Linked DNA regions of Homo sapiens: region 2 is linked to region 1. Evidence: fine-mapped expression QTL. Tissue or cell type: skeletal muscle. Region 1 holds a variant in brackets; the other region holds the start of a gene. All regions are shown on one strand. Distances are between the middles of the regions.

The links. PIP is the estimated chance that this variant, and not a neighbour inherited with it, causes the effect.
Region 2: it holds the start of ZNF571-AS1, and the variant in region 1 is the best candidate, but not a certain one, in a credible set for the expression of ZNF571-AS1 in skeletal muscle (GTEx, PIP 0.56).

What each region holds. Positions count from the first base shown.
Region 1 is chr19:37,406,370-37,414,670 of GRCh38, reverse strand. ZNF569 (zinc finger protein 569) reads left to right here. Exons shown (of 6, transcript NM_152484.3): 6 at 252-3,514. The coding sequence ends at 2,074. Among named protein-coding and RNA genes, the nearest start is that of ZNF527, 39 kb to the right of the region's middle. The variant G/AAGGAG (reference allele first, on the strand shown) is at 3,842.
Region 2 is chr19:37,545,492-37,553,792 of GRCh38, reverse strand. It overlaps ZNF571-AS1 (ZNF571 antisense RNA 1), which reads right to left and starts at 4,844. Exons shown (of 6, transcript NR_038248.1): 1 at 4,638-4,844; 2 at 2,802-2,931. It overlaps LOC124904708, which reads left to right and starts at 2,454. Exons shown (of 2, transcript XR_007067248.1): 1 at 2,454-5,901. It also overlaps a transcript of ZNF540 not described here.

The sequences.
Region 1 (8,301 bases):
CAGATCATTTTTTAAAGCAATCAAAGCTATTTGTATTTATAAATATATGCCTCTACTCATATTTCCTTTCCTGAATTTCCTTCTCAGAACTTCAGAGATAAGAGATATATGCAGTTGAAAATGTTTTAATAGTGGGAGAGTAGGGCTTAAACCAATAATCAGTCCCATAATTGCATATTTTTCAAAATGTTCTTCATATTACAATATTGGAAAAAAATTTGTAAGTGATATTTATTTGCAATCTGTTTTAGGAGAAATATGGGGAGTTGATGAGCATCAGAAAAACCAGGACAGACTTTTGAGACAAGTTGAAGTTAAATTCCAGAAAACACTGACTGAAGAAAAAGGCAATGAATGTCAAAAGAAATTTGCAAATGTATTTCCTCTGAACTCTGATTTTTTCCCTTCCAGACACAATCTCTATGAGTATGACTTATTTGGAAAGTGTTTAGAACATAATTTTGACTGTCATAATAATGTGAAATGCCTTATGAGAAAGGAGCATTGTGAATATAATGAACCTGTGAAATCATATGGTAATAGCTCATCCCATTTTGTCATTACCCCCTTTAAGTGTAATCATTGTGGAAAAGGCTTCAATCAGACTTTGGACCTCATCAGACATCTGAGAATTCATACTGGAGAGAAGCCCTATGAATGTAGTAACTGTAGAAAAGCCTTCAGTCACAAGGAAAAACTTATTAAACATTATAAAATTCACAGTAGGGAGCAGTCTTACAAATGTAATGAATGTGGTAAAGCTTTCATTAAAATGTCAAATCTCATTAGACATCAAAGAATTCATACTGGAGAGAAGCCCTATGCATGTAAGGAATGTGAGAAGTCCTTCAGCCAGAAATCAAATCTTATTGATCATGAAAAAATTCATACTGGAGAGAAACCTTATGAATGTAATGAGTGTGGAAAAGCATTCAGCCAGAAGCAAAGCCTCATTGCACATCAGAAAGTTCATACTGGGGAGAAACCTTATGCATGTAATGAATGTGGTAAAGCCTTCCCTCGAATTGCATCCCTTGCTCTTCATATGAGAAGTCATACAGGAGAAAAACCTTATAAATGTGATAAATGTGGTAAAGCCTTCTCTCAGTTTTCCATGCTTATTATACATGTTAGAATTCATACAGGTGAAAAACCCTATGAATGTAATGAGTGTGGAAAAGCCTTCTCTCAAAGCTCAGCCCTTACTGTACATATGAGAAGTCACACTGGTGAGAAACCCTATGAATGTAAGGAATGCAGAAAAGCCTTCAGCCACAAGAAAAACTTCATTACACACCAGAAAATTCATACTAGAGAGAAACCTTATGAGTGTAATGAATGTGGGAAAGCTTTTATACAGATGTCAAATCTTGTTAGACACCAGAGAATTCATACTGGGGAAAAACCCTATATATGTAAGGAATGTGGGAAAGCCTTTAGCCAGAAATCAAATCTCATTGCTCATGAAAAAATTCATTCTGGAGAGAAACCCTATGAATGCAATGAATGTGGTAAAGCCTTCAGCCAAAAGCAAAACTTCATTACACATCAAAAAGTTCATACTGGAGAGAAACCTTATGATTGTAATGAATGTGGTAAAGCCTTCTCTCAAATTGCATCCCTTACCCTTCATTTGAGAAGTCATACAGGGGAAAAGCCTTATGAATGTGATAAATGTGGTAAAGCCTTCTCTCAGTGCTCACTGCTTAATTTACATATGAGAAGTCACACAGGTGAGAAGCCCTATGTATGTAATGAATGTGGGAAAGCCTTCTCTCAAAGAACTTCCCTTATTGTGCACATGAGAGGCCATACAGGTGAAAAACCCTATGAATGTAATAAATGTGGAAAAGCCTTCTCCCAAAGCTCATCCCTTACTATACATATACGAGGACATACAGGTGAGAAACCCTTCGACTGTAGTAAATGTGGAAAAGCCTTCTCTCAAATCTCATCTCTTACCCTTCATATGAGAAAACATACAGGTGAGAAGCCCTATCACTGTATTGAGTGTGGCAAGGCTTTCAGCCAAAAGTCGCACCTTGTTAGACACCAGAGAATTCATACTCATTAGAAACCCTATGAATATTGTGAATATGGCAAGGCCATCTGAAGGAATTAACACCTCATTGCACATTACATGATCACTTCCAGAGTAGAAAACTATGAATGTGGGATAGCCTTCTGAAAAAGCCACAAATTTATGAAACATTAGAGAATTCTTCCAAGGTGACAAATTATATAATGAAAAAGCTGTTACCAGAAACTTTCAGCAGACATCTTATTGATAATATTTAATCAGCATTCTCATTGAAATCTGAAACAAGGTATCTTCCATCAGCATAACAACACAACACTTGAGCTCCTAGCCAATGTATTAAGTAAGGAAAACAAGTATCAACGAAGAACTATAAAAATAACTTTTATACAAGAAATAATTAGAAAATGTGTTGATAGAAAACCTAAGAATAAACACAACAATGAGTTAGGTCTTTATCAAGTTATAAAATATGTTGAAAGGCACAAAAGAACACCTGAAAAATGATATTTTGTCTGAAAAGACTTGACATTGTAAAAATATAATTTCTCTCCCAAATCACTAAGTTTAATATACTTCTGAAGTTTACATCAGTTTTATTTTAAGGAACTTCACAAACTTATCCAAAAATTTTATGTGGAAAAGTAAAGAAACACAAATAGCTGAAACAAACTTGACAAAGCAAGTAGAGAAGACACACTCTATTATTAGATATATCATGTACTTATTTAAAGCTGCTGTCATTTAAACAATGTATTACCAAGTGAATAAATCAAGCAGTAGTAAGATAGTGAGCATTCATACAAAAATCCAAGAAGATACAGGAATTCTGTGTATGACAGTGCTATTGAAATCACTGGGGAATGAATGGCTTATTTAATAAATGGAAGGTTCATAGGAGAAAAATTTTAGCTTTCTACTTTATATCATATACAAAAATAAAATCCAACTAAAGACCAGAATATAAAAAGCAAAATTTTAAAACTATGATGAAAGTAGAATCCGTTACTTTAGGGTAACAAGATTTCTTTAAAAAACATGTAAACATGGAATAGTCTGTTGAATTTTGGTGTATTGGCCTCACAGGCACCCACAAATGTACACAAAGAGATATATATCACTGTGTTCCTGAATCATGGTTTGTATTGCCCAAAATTGGATATAACAAATTTTTATCAATTGTGGAATAGATGAATAAGTGTGATCATTTCTGTGATAAAATACAGAATTTAGAAACAAAATCTACCTATAGTTATATGGATAGATTACAATATATAATATTGAGAGAAAAAATTAAAATGCACAAAGGAACACAGTATAACATTTGTATAATTTAATAAGATCTTGCAAAGAACAGTACTGTGTATTGGTCATGGATCCATATATGACTTGGTTGCCTTTTGGGATGTGGGAAAGGTTTGGTGGGAGTTGTTATATTTATCTGTAATATTTCTTTAATAAAAGAGTGAAAGCAAATATGACAGTGGTGACAAATCTGGTTGTCCAAATTAATTATATGGGTTTTTAAAATTGTTTTTTCTTGCTTTTATTTTCCTAATTTCTCAAAAATAAGAATCAAATGGGTGGGGGAAACCTGGGCCTGGAGAAATAATTTTAAAATGGATTTTTATTCTTGATCAGATACTAACATTTATAGAAGATTGTCTTTACACAAAACATACCTGACAAGGTATTATTTTGTTTACTGTCTCTTCATGTTAATTGGAATAATAAAATCAGCAGTATTTTCGCATTTATTTGAGGCCAATTTTTAATTTTAAACTCAAATTTTTTTCTAGTTGA[G/AAGGAG]TATAGAAACAAAACAATTATTTTATTATTGGGATAATTGGCTATCCATTTGGGGAAAGAAATCCACCTTCATTTGGGTTGGTTTTGGAGTGAAGGAAAGAGACCATTCATGCATACTGTAAAATATAGTTTACATTCTAATATATCAAGCCAAGAATAGTTATTGGTGTTAGAGTAGAAGCAATTTCTATATATCTCAACAAAGCTTTTCTTTGTTTCTGGATCAATAAATGGGGATGCAGATGCTGGTGATTTTATGTATGCCAGGTAAGGGCCCAGTGGATGTGAAAAATTCACTTCATTCTGTTCCACAGATGTTTTATATTCAGGCCTTTCAAATATTTATGTCGTGGCCAGGTGCAGTGGTGGCTCACACCTGTAATCCCAGCACTTTGGGAGGCTGAGGCAGGTGGATCACTTGAGGTCAGGAGTTTGTGAGCAGCCTGGCCAACATGGTGTAACCCCGTCTCAACTAAAAATACAAAAATTAGCTGGGTGTGGTTGTGTGTGCCTCTTATCCCAGCTACTTGGGAGGCTGAAGCACGAGAATTGCTTGAACCCAGGAGGCAGAGGTTGCAGTGAGCTGAGATCACGCCACTGCATTCCAGCCTGGGCAACAGAGTGAGACTCCATCTCAAAAAACAAACAAAAAAACAAATATGTTGCCTCCAATTTCATTTTCTGTGAATAGTCTATTCATATATTAAGTCTGTTTTTTTCTACTGGAACTTCAAAAATGTTTTTCTTGGAAACAATTATGGATTTATAGGAAGTTATACAGATAATGCTGTATAGTACTATTTAGTCCTTGTACCCCACACCTCGTTTCTCCTAATGGTAACACCTTATATAACAGTACAGAATCAAATTTGACATTGGTACAATCCACAAACATTACCAGTTTTATAGGCACTTGTGTATGTGTCTGTACAGTTCTATACAGTTTTATCTCATGCACAGATTAGTGTAACTGCCACTCCCCATAGTCAATCTATAAAACTGACAGCACCACAAAGGTCCCTTGTTCTATCCATTTATAGTCACACCCATCTTCCTGTCCTCCTCACTCCCCATCCCTAACCCCTGGCAATTACTAGTCTATTCTCTATCTCTATAGTTTTTTCATAATGGATTTTTTTCTTTTTTGTGTGTGTTACAATATATTCTGGACACAAATCCTTTGTCAGTTACTTGCATTCTAAAAATAGTTTTGTTTTCAGTTTATTGCAGACACAAAAATTTTAAAGCTGAATGTGAAAATTAGTCTATGATACATTTTGAGTTAACTTTTTATAAGGAATAAAATTTAGGTCAAGGTTCATTTTTTGGATGTCTACTTGTTACAGTGCTATTTGTTGAAAAAAAATATTGTTTCTCCATTGAATTGCTTGGCCTACTTCTGTGTTTCTGAATGCTCTTTTCCAAAAATCTATGCATCTATCCCTCTATCAATGCCACACTGTCTTGATTACTATAGCTGTATACTGATTGCTCTCATTTTTTTACTTTTTCTTTTTCTTTTTTTTTTTTGAGGCAGGGTCTCACTCCTGTCACCCAGGCTGGAGTGCAATGGTTCTAGTCATAGCTCACTGCAGAATCAGATGATTCTCCAAGCCAAGTAGCTGAGACTAGACGTGTGTGTCAGCACACTCAGCTAATTTTTGTATTTTGAGTAGAGATGGTTTTGCCATGTTGCCCAGGCTGGTCTCAAACTCTTGAGTTCAAGGAATCCTCTGGCCTTGGTCTCCCAAAATGCTGGAATTACAGGCGTGAGCCACCACACCTGACCTATTATTCATTTTCAAAATTTATTTATCTATTCCACTTTCTTTGCTCTTCCATATAAATTTTGGATCAGCCTGTCTGTGTTTTCAAAAGCCCTGCTTAAATTTTCATAGAAATTGCATTAAGCCTTTATTTCATTGTGGAAGAATGGAAGTCTTTACTATACTAAGCCTTCCACTCCATAAACACAGTATGTGTCTTATGTAGGTCTTCTTTGAGTTCATCAGTTTTAATCATTGTTTTGTAATTTTTAGCTCCGGTAAATGTATTAGATTTAAACTTAACTGCTTCACTGGATGTGTGTGTGTGATATTCTTGTTTGTAAATTCCTTTAGATTTTCTATGTAGAAATAATATCATCTGCAAATGGGGCCAGTTATGTTTTGTTCTTTCCAATCTATATGCTTGCTTTTTACTTTTCTGGCCTTATAAATTGTCAGTAAGCTTCTGGAATGGGATTTTAAAGCTGACTTCTGGGAGAAAATCAGTTAAGCAATCTTCAAAGACCAAAACATAAGAGTCAATGAAAACATAAAAGGGGGCAAGGATTGAAAAAGTAACCAGTGGGTATCGTGCTCAGTACGTGGGTGGCAGGGTCATTTATACCCCAGACCTCAGCATCACACAATATACCCAGGTAACCTGCACATGTACCCCCAACTCTAAAAATTTTTAAAAAAGAGATGATATTTAAAGGAGAAATGGGATTGCCCTATACTAGAGTAACAGTCACTTGTACAGATAGAATTCCATTGTTTTTATCCCTAACGTGGCCTGAGTTTCAAAGAACCTAATTGAGATAGGTAATCTGGGTGGAGCTTTGCTCCCATCAGTCAACAGCAGGAAGGATCAGTTGTGAATACTGTGGGATCTAACCAGAGATTCCTTCCTGGAATCCCAGTTGAAAAAACAGCGACCAGGTAATTAAGGTCTCTATCAGTTCTCAAACTCCCGACCTCAAGTGATTAACCCGCCTTCGCCCTCCCAAAGTGCTGGGATTACAGGCATGAGCTACCGGCCTGGCAGGGTCTCTATCAGTTCTAACCATTTTCTCTTGAGCCATGTACACGAATCCAAGAAAGTGCCTTTCTCATGTGTAAGCTCCACAACACAGTTAATAAGGGTACTACATGGGTACACATGGACATAAAGATGGGAACAATAGACAATGGGGACTACTGGGGGGAGGGATGGAGTGGGGTAAGGGCTAAAAAACTACCTAGTGGGTACCATGCTCACCATCTGGGTGACAGGATCATTTGTACCCCAAACCTCAGTATCATGCAATATATCCATGTAACAAACCTGTACATGTACTCCCTGAATCTAAAATAAAAGTTAAAAAAAATTTTAAGGTACAACAGCGAAGATCAAAACTGATTCCTGAAGTCAGCCTTGTGATTTTTGCAGGTGTGGCCCACTGTATGTGCAGGGAAACAGGAATCAAAGCAGCAGTAGGGGGTGAAGTGGGAATCCATTTTAGGTCTAATCTATGGTATGAAAAGAACACAGGTAATTTTAATAAAATTCTGACAGTAGAATAGGGTGGTAGAATATATGTTCTTTATAAAATTAAATGAGTCCCAGCGCGGTGGCTCACACTCGTATTCCCAGCACTTTGAAAGGCCAAGGTGGGAAGATTGCTTGAGCTCAGGAGTTTAAGACCAGCCTGAACAACAAGTCACAACCCTGTCTCTACAAGTTAAAAAAAAAAAAAAATAGCTGGACATGGTGGTGCAGCTACTTGGGAGGCTGAGGTGGAAGGATCAGTAGAGGCTGGGAGTTCTTTGAGTTCGAGGCTGCAGTGAGCTATGGTCATGCCACTGTGCTCCAGCCTGGACAAGAGAGTGAGACCCTGTTTCTATTTAAAAGAGAGGGAGAAGATGGATTAAAGACTTAAATGTTAGACCTAAAACCATAAAAACCCTAGAAGAAAACCTAGTCAATACCATTCAGGACATAGGCATGGGCAAGGACTTCATGTCTAAAACACCACAAGCAATGGCAACAAAAGCCAAAATTGACAAATGGGATCTAATTAAACTAAAGAGCTTCTGCACAGCAAAAGAAACTACCACCAGAGTGAACAGACAACCTACAGAATGGGAGAAAATTTTTGCAATCTACTCATCTGACAAAGGGCTAATATCCAGAATCTACAACGAACTCAAACAAATTTACAAGAAAAAAACAACCCCATCAAAAAGTGGGCAAAGGATATGAACAGACACTTCTCCAAAGAAGACATTTATGCAGCGAACAGACACATGAAAAAATGCTCATCATCACTGGCCATCAGAGAAATGCAAATCAAAACCACAATGAGATATCATCTCACACCAGTTAGAATGGCAATCATTAAAAAGTCAGGAAACAACAGGTGCTGGAGAAGATGTAGAGAAATTGGAACACTTTTACACTCTTTGTGGGACTGTAAACTAGTTCAACCATTGTAGAAGACAGTGTGGCGATTCCTCAGGGATCTAGAACTAGAAATACCATTTGACCCAGCCATCCCATTACTGGGTATATACCCAAAGGAATATAAATCATGCTGGTATAAAGACACATGCACACATATGTTTATTGCGGCACTACTCACAATAGCAAAGACTTGGAAGCAACCCAAATGTCCAACAATGATAGACTGGATTAAGAAAATGTGGCACATATAC
Region 2 (8,301 bases), 140 kb before region 1:
TATGAAAATGGCTCAAAGGTGAGAAGGTGGAATGGAAGTATTATTTGTGTGAGATCCCAGCAAATATACGATAGGGTATAATATGTAAAACTAGACATTGAAAGCTAAAAATGAATGTTGAAAGCCTCTAGGAAAAAAAGCACTCAAAATTCTAAAAAGTGCCGTAATATTTAGCCAGTAGTAGAAGTAAAATAGAATATAATTTAAAAAATACAAAAATAGGCAGAAAATTAGAAAAAGAATTAAGGATAGATAAGAGAAACAGAATAAAGAGCAAGATGATTGTTACAAACCCAAATATATCAATAATTACAAACAATGTTAATGGCCTAAATACTTCAGTAAAAAAACACAGAAGAAAGCCAGGCGTGGTGGCTGATGCCTGTAATGCCAGCACTTTGGGAGGCCAAGGTGGGCGGATCACCTGAAGTCAGGAGTTTGAGACCAGCCTGGCCAACATGGTGAAACCCCATCTCTACTAAAAATACAAAAATTAGGCAGGCGTGGTGGTGGGCACCTGTAACCCAGCTACTCAGGAGGCTGAGGCAGGAGAATCGCTTGAACCCAGGAGGTGGAGGTTGCAGTGAGCCGAGATCATGCCACTCCACTCCAGCCTAGGTGACAAAGGCGAGACTGTCTCCAAAAAAAAAAAAAAAAAAAAAAAAAAAAAAAAAAAAAAGATGTTAGGTTATATAAAAAAAGATTAAAATATGAAGACTCGGATTAAAAAGTCAAAAGTATATACCAACTCAAATAGGTTAAAAGTTAAAAAAAAAAAAAAAACACCATGCAAACACTATACCAAAATGGCTATGTGAACATAAAACAAATTGTCTTTTTTTGTTCGAGACAGAGTCTCACCCCGTCACCCAGGCTGGAGTGCAGTGGTGCCATCTTGGCTCACTGCAACCTCTACCTCCCGAGTTCAAGTCATTGTCCTGCCTCACCCTCCCGAGTAGCTGGGACTACAGGCGCACGCCACCACACTCGGCTAATTTTGTATTTTTGGTAGAGATGGGGTTTCACCATGTTGGCCAAGCTGGTCTCAAACTCCTGACTCCAAGTGATCCCACCACCTCAGCCTTCCAGAGTGCTAGGATTACAGGCATGACCCACTGCACCCGGCCCTCACAACAAATTGTCTTTGAAACAAAGAATATTACCAGGGATTTATTCTAAAAAGGCATATTTTATAATACTATAGAAGTGTATTGACCAAGAAGACAAAGCAATCATACAAGTACTTGTGCCTAGTACCAGAACTAAACAATACATTAAAAACTGCTAGAAATAAAAATAAATGAACTCAGAATCATATTTTGAGATTTTAATACTGTTCTCTCATTAACTTTTAAAAGTATATAGAAAATCTATAAAGATATAAGATACCTGAACGGTGCTAATAGCCAACTTGTTGTAATTGATACTTATAGACTAGTCCACCTAAGAGCAGCAGCAGTGTTTTCACTTATACAAAGAACTTTAGCAAGCTTGTTTATATTCTGAGCCATAAATTGTCAATATATTGAAAAGGATTGAAATCAGAAAATCTGTTTTCTAACCACAGTAGAATTAAGCCAGAAATTAATGTCAAAATTAAAAAATGTTTGCAAATTAAGCAACACACATTTAAGTAAACTATGGGACAAGTAAAAAATTACCTATTTGGAGTCAAAAATAACAGCATATAAAATTTTGTGGAATGCAACTAAAGCAGCACTTTGAGGGAAATGTATGCTTTTAAATACATATCAATGGTTTAAGTTCCCACTTAAAGAAACAGGTGAGACTCAGAAAAGGAATTAAGCTTAGAGCTGAAATCAATGACCCCCAAGAAAGCGAAAAACAAGAAAAGCACACTTGGGACCACAAGAGGGCGCATAAGAGAGCCCGCGGACTACAGAGAAACGGCGCTCCACCGCACGAGACACATTCTTTTCACCAGACACCACCCCCCCCACACACACAGACATGCAACACTTGCACAGAAACACACACAGAGATATGCAACACTCGCACAGAAACACACACACCCAGGCAGCTCCTGAGGCTGCTTGGTTCTCCTGTCCGCCAGAAGCCCCTCCCCGGAGACAGCAGCCCCGGTACACACAGGCAGGCGGTACCTACCTCGCAATCCCAGGCGGGACAACGTTCAAGGAGACGCGCTCCCAGCACCGTCTAGGCAGGCCTGACGCGTCGGGGAGATCCGATAGGGATCACGCGGTGCATCCTTGAAGCTACGCTGGACGTTTCTTTAGCCTGGTTCTGCCCTGCCCGACTCCTAGGGTCGGGGGACCAAGGCGACGATCCCCCGGAGAGGAGGGGGCCATAGCCCAGCGCCGACGCACTGCCAGGGAGGGCTCCAGCTCCGCCAAGCCGCTAGGGCCCGTCCCCAGGCAACGGTGGCTGTCACTGTGACGCGAGCCCCGGCTCAGCCGTCGCGCCTGGTGACGCGCGCCTGGCGCATGCGCATTCGCGTGCCCGGCTGGCGCTGCCGCAACGTCAGGGCTCTCAGGGCCCATAGGAAAACGGTGGAGGCCGTGCTGGCTGCGGCCCGGGGAAGAAGGCTGCGTGAGACCAGCAGCGCAGGACCCTGACAGTCCTGACCTCAGTGCCTCCTTCAGCCCACTTCGTGTACGGGTCTGGGTGGAGGAGGAGGCGCTTCAGACCTTGAGGTGGGCACTCGGGACTGCTCTCTGATTTGATTCTAGATTGGAGGGTGTGGGCAGGAATCAGGTCCCATGGGGCTGGGGATCCAATCTGGTGAGGAGTTGAGGGGTCGCTGGGGTAGGAAAACATACCTGAGACCCCAGTGGAGGGTGTGAGCAGGACATTCCCTCGCCCCATGAGCTGACTGGCCCCCTTTCGACCTGGGCCTCCCAGGGCCCTGTCCTGGTCTCCAAGACCAGGGCCTTCGGCTTCTCAGCATTGCTGTCCAGAAAAGGCGGGAACAAGGACAAAGTCAAGCCCGATGTGAAGCAGAGGTGGCAACACCTAAAACTGGCATCCCATGGGGGCAGAAAATGTGGAGAGAGTGTCTCAGAGGCCTTCTGGGGTGAATCCAAGCCCAAAAGGGATATCCAGGCATGCTGGCGAGGGCCACTGAGGATACCCCCAAGAAAGCGAAGCACAAGCAAAGCACACCTGAAACCATAGGAGGGCCTGTGCCGGAGTCCAAGCCTCCTCCAGGGATTCCTGCCAGAGGAGCCAAGAGGATCCTGCAAAGTGATCCAGCACCCACACCGGGATCACAACCCACCACCGGGTCTACACCCAGCTAACCCCCAGTCCCTTTTGCTCCGTGAAATCCCTGGCAACGAAAAGGTGCAGTGCTGAGAGGCAGTCCCAGCCAGGAACAGAGCAATGGGAGACCCCTCAACAATGAGAAAACACCAGCAGATGAGATGAAACATAGCCTTCATTAGAAGGCAAAGGCCAGCTACGGCTGGCTACCTCTCATTCTATGTGAATCATGCAGCCATCTGATGCAATGGGGAGACCAAGAGTTTCCTTATTGGGGAAAGCTACGGGCACCCACGGTTCCAAGAGCATCACAGCTACCCAGTCATTAAGAAATGTGAGTGTTGAGAAGGAAACACTCATCACCTACGTCCCCGCCAAGGTGGTCCTGGACGAACTGGGAAACATTTGCTGTGAAGGACGTTCTGGAGGACTGTGAGCCAGACCAAGGAAAACCTGGGCCGACGAGAATCAGGGAAGGCAAGAAAAGAGGGAGAACAGAGTAGAGGCCGCAGCCCAGGCAGGATCAATCCATCCCACTCCCATGTGCCTCGGGGAACCAGGGTCCAACAGGGGACCTGGCCAGAAAGGCGACAGTCTTCGGTCCAAAGGTTCTCCGAACACTCGTGTCTTCTATCGCCAGCACAGCGCCATGGTGTGGACAGGTTGTACAGTGAAGAGGAAAAGGGGATGGCGTTGGAAACAGTTTCTTTGACATCTGTCTGCACCTGTTCTGCAGGTGAAGGTGCGAGACCTCCTCCACACCTCAGCGGATTGTATCTTCACCCCCATCTGACCTTTTTTCTGCACACATCCTTTAATCCAGAATGAAATCTGAAGAGGATGAAGGAGTGCCCGCCTCAGGTCCTGAAGCTGCGACTCCGCCAGCCACCGAATTAGAAGTGGGCTCAAGGGGGTACTGAGGACAGGACAGCTAGGGTCCGTCCAGCCTTGGGTGTGCCGCAGGACCATGGGCCCCTGGAGGAATTTGTTCTTGGTTGTCGTGTGCTGGTCTTCTTTCTGGAAGAGTGGGCGGCTTGGGAGGGGAGGTGATTTGGACGTTTGCGGGTCGCAGCCAGCCCCCCACTTCACCGAGGCTTTAGGAACCAAGAGCGAAACAAAGAACGCTTGCCCCGCAACCCAAGCCCGGCCAAAGAGACGGGCGCATCAGAGCGTAGGCGAACTACAGAGAAACCGCGCTTCACTGCACGAGCCACATTTCTTTCACCGCACACCACACACACACTCACACGCACACACAGAAAGACACACGGAAACATCCAACAGTCGCACAGAAACACACACAGCCAGGCAGCTCCTGAGGCTGCGCGGTTCTGCTCTCTGCCAGGAAACCCCTCCGGAAAGAGAGCGCCCCGGGGAACACAGGCAGGCCGTACCTCGAAATCCCAGCGGGGACACCTGTCAGGGAGACGCACCCTCACACCGCCCATGCATGCCCGACGCATCTTTGGGATCCTTAGGGATCACGTGGTGCTTCCTTGAATCTCCGCTTGAGGTTTCTTCAGGCAGGTTCGGCCTTGCCCGACTCCTAGGATCGCAGGACCATGGCGACGATCCCGCGGAGAGGGGACGCACTGCCACAGACGCCTGGGGGCCAAGCCGCTGGGGCCAGTCCCCCGGCAACGGTGGCGGTTACTGTGACGCGAGTCCCCCCTCAGCGCTAGCGCCTGGTGATCGCGCCTGGTACGTGCACTTTCGCGTTCCCGGTTTGTGGGCCGCATTGTCAGGGCTCTCAGGCTGCAGCCCAATAGGAAAACAGTGGAGGCCGTGCAGGCGGCGGTTCGGGGAAGGAGACTGCATGCGACAAGCAGCGCAGGACCCTGACTGTCGTGACCTCAGTGCCTCCTTGAGCCGACCTCGTGTTTGGGTCCGGGTGTAGGAGGAGGTGCTTCAGACCGTGAGGTGGGCACTCGGGATTGCTCTTCTGATTTGATTCTGGACTGGAATCAAATTGGAATTGACCCGGAATTGGGTCCCACGGGGCTGGGGAACCAATCTGGTGAGGTGTGGAGGGGTCGCTGGTGCACAGAAACATACCGGATACCCTCGGGGTGGGTGTCAGCAGAACATTCCTCGGCTCCATGAGCTGACTGCCTCCCTTTGATCTGGGCCTCCCAGGGCTCTTCCTGCGTCTCCAAGCTCAGGGGCTCCTGCTTCTCAGCACTGCTGTCTGGAAAAGGCGGGAACGAGGACTAAGGCAAGCCCAGTGTGGGGCAGAGATGGCAACACCTGGAACTAGCTTTTCATGGGGGCAGATAATGTGGAGAGTGTCCCAATTACATCTCCCTTTATTCTATCCCATACTACTAAACCCCACCAGCTATTTGCCTACAAACTGTGTATCAGTCAGGACATCAGGACACCAAGATAAAGGACTAGAGTTTGGTAATCAACTACTGGCTCCTCCAGCAGCTCAGAATGTGGCCTGTATGCATCACTTCACTTAATTCATTCAAGAAATGCTGACTGAGTTCCTGCTGTGTGTTGGACACTTTCTTAGAAGTGGGACACACTGCAGTGTGTGGGACAAAGGCTGGGCCGCTCATTGCTTATGTTCTAGTTGAAGAGAGAGTCAATCAACAACATTCTACTTTCAGACATTGATAAATGCTGTCATGAAAAGACAAGGAACATGAAAAGGTAAGAAAAGGGATGGAGAGAGATGGGATGAGGGGTGCCTGGGCAGACAATGCAATGATCTGGCAAAAGAGTAGGACAATCATGAGACTGCATGTGTTCCAGTTTCTGCTGCTGTAAAACAGCATCCACAGGTTACATCTTTACTATTCTGTTACATACATACTATTATTTAAATAAAAAATAGTACTAGTTAACTGTGAAAATTGCAATTAATAGGGCAGATTAAACAAATCCTTTAAATTTAAACAAATGTTTTATGGTTTTTTATCCTCTGATACATTGTTTCAACTTTAAAAAACCCTCTTTATTTGATATTTAAACTCTATATTAATGTATATTCTTAAGATACATAAATTTAAGATTTTTTTCGAGACAGGGTCTCATTCTGTCACACAGTCTGGAGTGCTGTGGTGCAATTATGGTTCACTGCAGACTCCACCTCTCCAGGCTCAGATAATCCTCCTGCCTCAGACTCCTGAGTATCTGGGACCACAGGTGTGCATCACCACACCCAGCTAATTTCTTGTATTTTTTTGTTGGGATGGGGTTTTGCGATGTTGCCCAGGCTGGTCTCAAACTCCTGGGCTCAAGTGATCTGCCTGCCTTGGTGTCTCAAAGTGTTGGGATCACAGGCGTGAGCCACCACATCCAGCCTAATTTAAGATTTTTAAAAAGCAGAATGTAAATATGGTCATGCATTGTGTAATTCTGTGGATACTTTCTGAGTAATGCATGGTTAGGTGACTTCATCATTATGTGAACATTATAGAGTGTACATACACAAACCTAGATGATGTAGCCTGATGGTACAGCCTATCACTTCGAGGCTACAAATCCAAATTGCCTGGATACTGTAAACAATTATACTCAATGGTATTTGTGTATCTAAACATGTCTAAACATAGAAAGGGTACAGTAAAAATATGGTATAAAAGATAAGAAATCGTATACCGGTATACAGCACTTACCGTGGATGGAGCTTGCAAGACTGGAAGTTACTCCGGGTGAGTCAGTGACTGAGCGGTGAGTGAATGTGAAGGCTAGGGCAGTACTGTATACTACTGTAGACTTTATATGTACTGTATGCTTAGGCTACACTAAATTTATTTGAATTTTTTTGTCGGTAATAAATTAACCTTAGCTTACTATAATTTCTTTATAAACCTTTTAATTTTTAAAAATGTTTTGACTCTCTTGTAATAAATTAGCTTCAAACACATTGTATAGCTGTACACAAATATTTTCTTTATATCCTTATTCTATAATCTTCTACTTAAAAATTTTTTTAATTTTTTTATTTTAATTTAATTTTATTTTATTTTGAGACAGAGTCTCACTCTCTCGCCCAGGCTGGAGTGCAGTGGCGTGATCTTAACTCACTGCAACCTCCGCTTCCCAGGTAATATTATTTAAATAAAAATAGTACTAGTTAACTGTGAAAATTGCAATTAATAGGGCAGATCAAGCAATTCTCTTGCCTCAGCCTCCAGACTTTTTTGTTAAAAACTAAGACACAAACACATTAGCCTAGGTACACACAGTGCCAGGATCATCAAAATGTCATTAGGCAGTATAAACTTTTCAGCTCCATAAAAGTTGGAAAAAAAATAATAATAATAAATACAATTTTATAAAAAGAAAATTTTCAGCTCTGCTATAATCTTATGGGACCACTACTGTATATGTGGTCCCTCATTGACCAAAACATCATTATGTGGCACATGATTATAACAAATGATGGATGGCGAGGTTGTGAAGAAACTGGAACCCTTGTGCATTACTGGTTGTAATATAAAAAGGTACAGCCACTGTAAAAAAAAAACACAGTTTGGTTATTTCTTCATAAGTTAATCATAGAATTACCATATAATCCAGCAATTTCACTTCTAGGTATATGCCCAAAATAATTGAATAAGGTGTTTAAACATAAACTTGTACAAGAATGTTCATAGCAGTACATTTCACAATACTCAGATAATCCTCTCATTGGAAGCAACTCAAATGTCCACCAACTGATGGTATTACCCATGCAATGGAATATTATTCAGTCATAAAAAGGAATGAAGTACTGAGGCATGTTACAACATGAAGGAACTTTGAGGACAGTTTGTTAATACGCTATATACTGTGTAATTCTATTTATATGAAATATCCAGAATAGGTAAATCATTAGAGACTAGAGACAGCAGATTAGTGGATGCCAGGAGTTTGGGGAAGGAAGGGGTGGGAAGAATGGGAAGTGACTGCTTAATGGATACAGGGTTTCTTTTTGGGGTGATGAAAAATTTCTGGAACTAGATTGTAGTGATGGTTGCACAACACCGTAAGTGTAATAATGTCACTGAATTATACACTTTAAAGTGATTTAAATGGTAAATTGTATTATTTATGTATTTTACC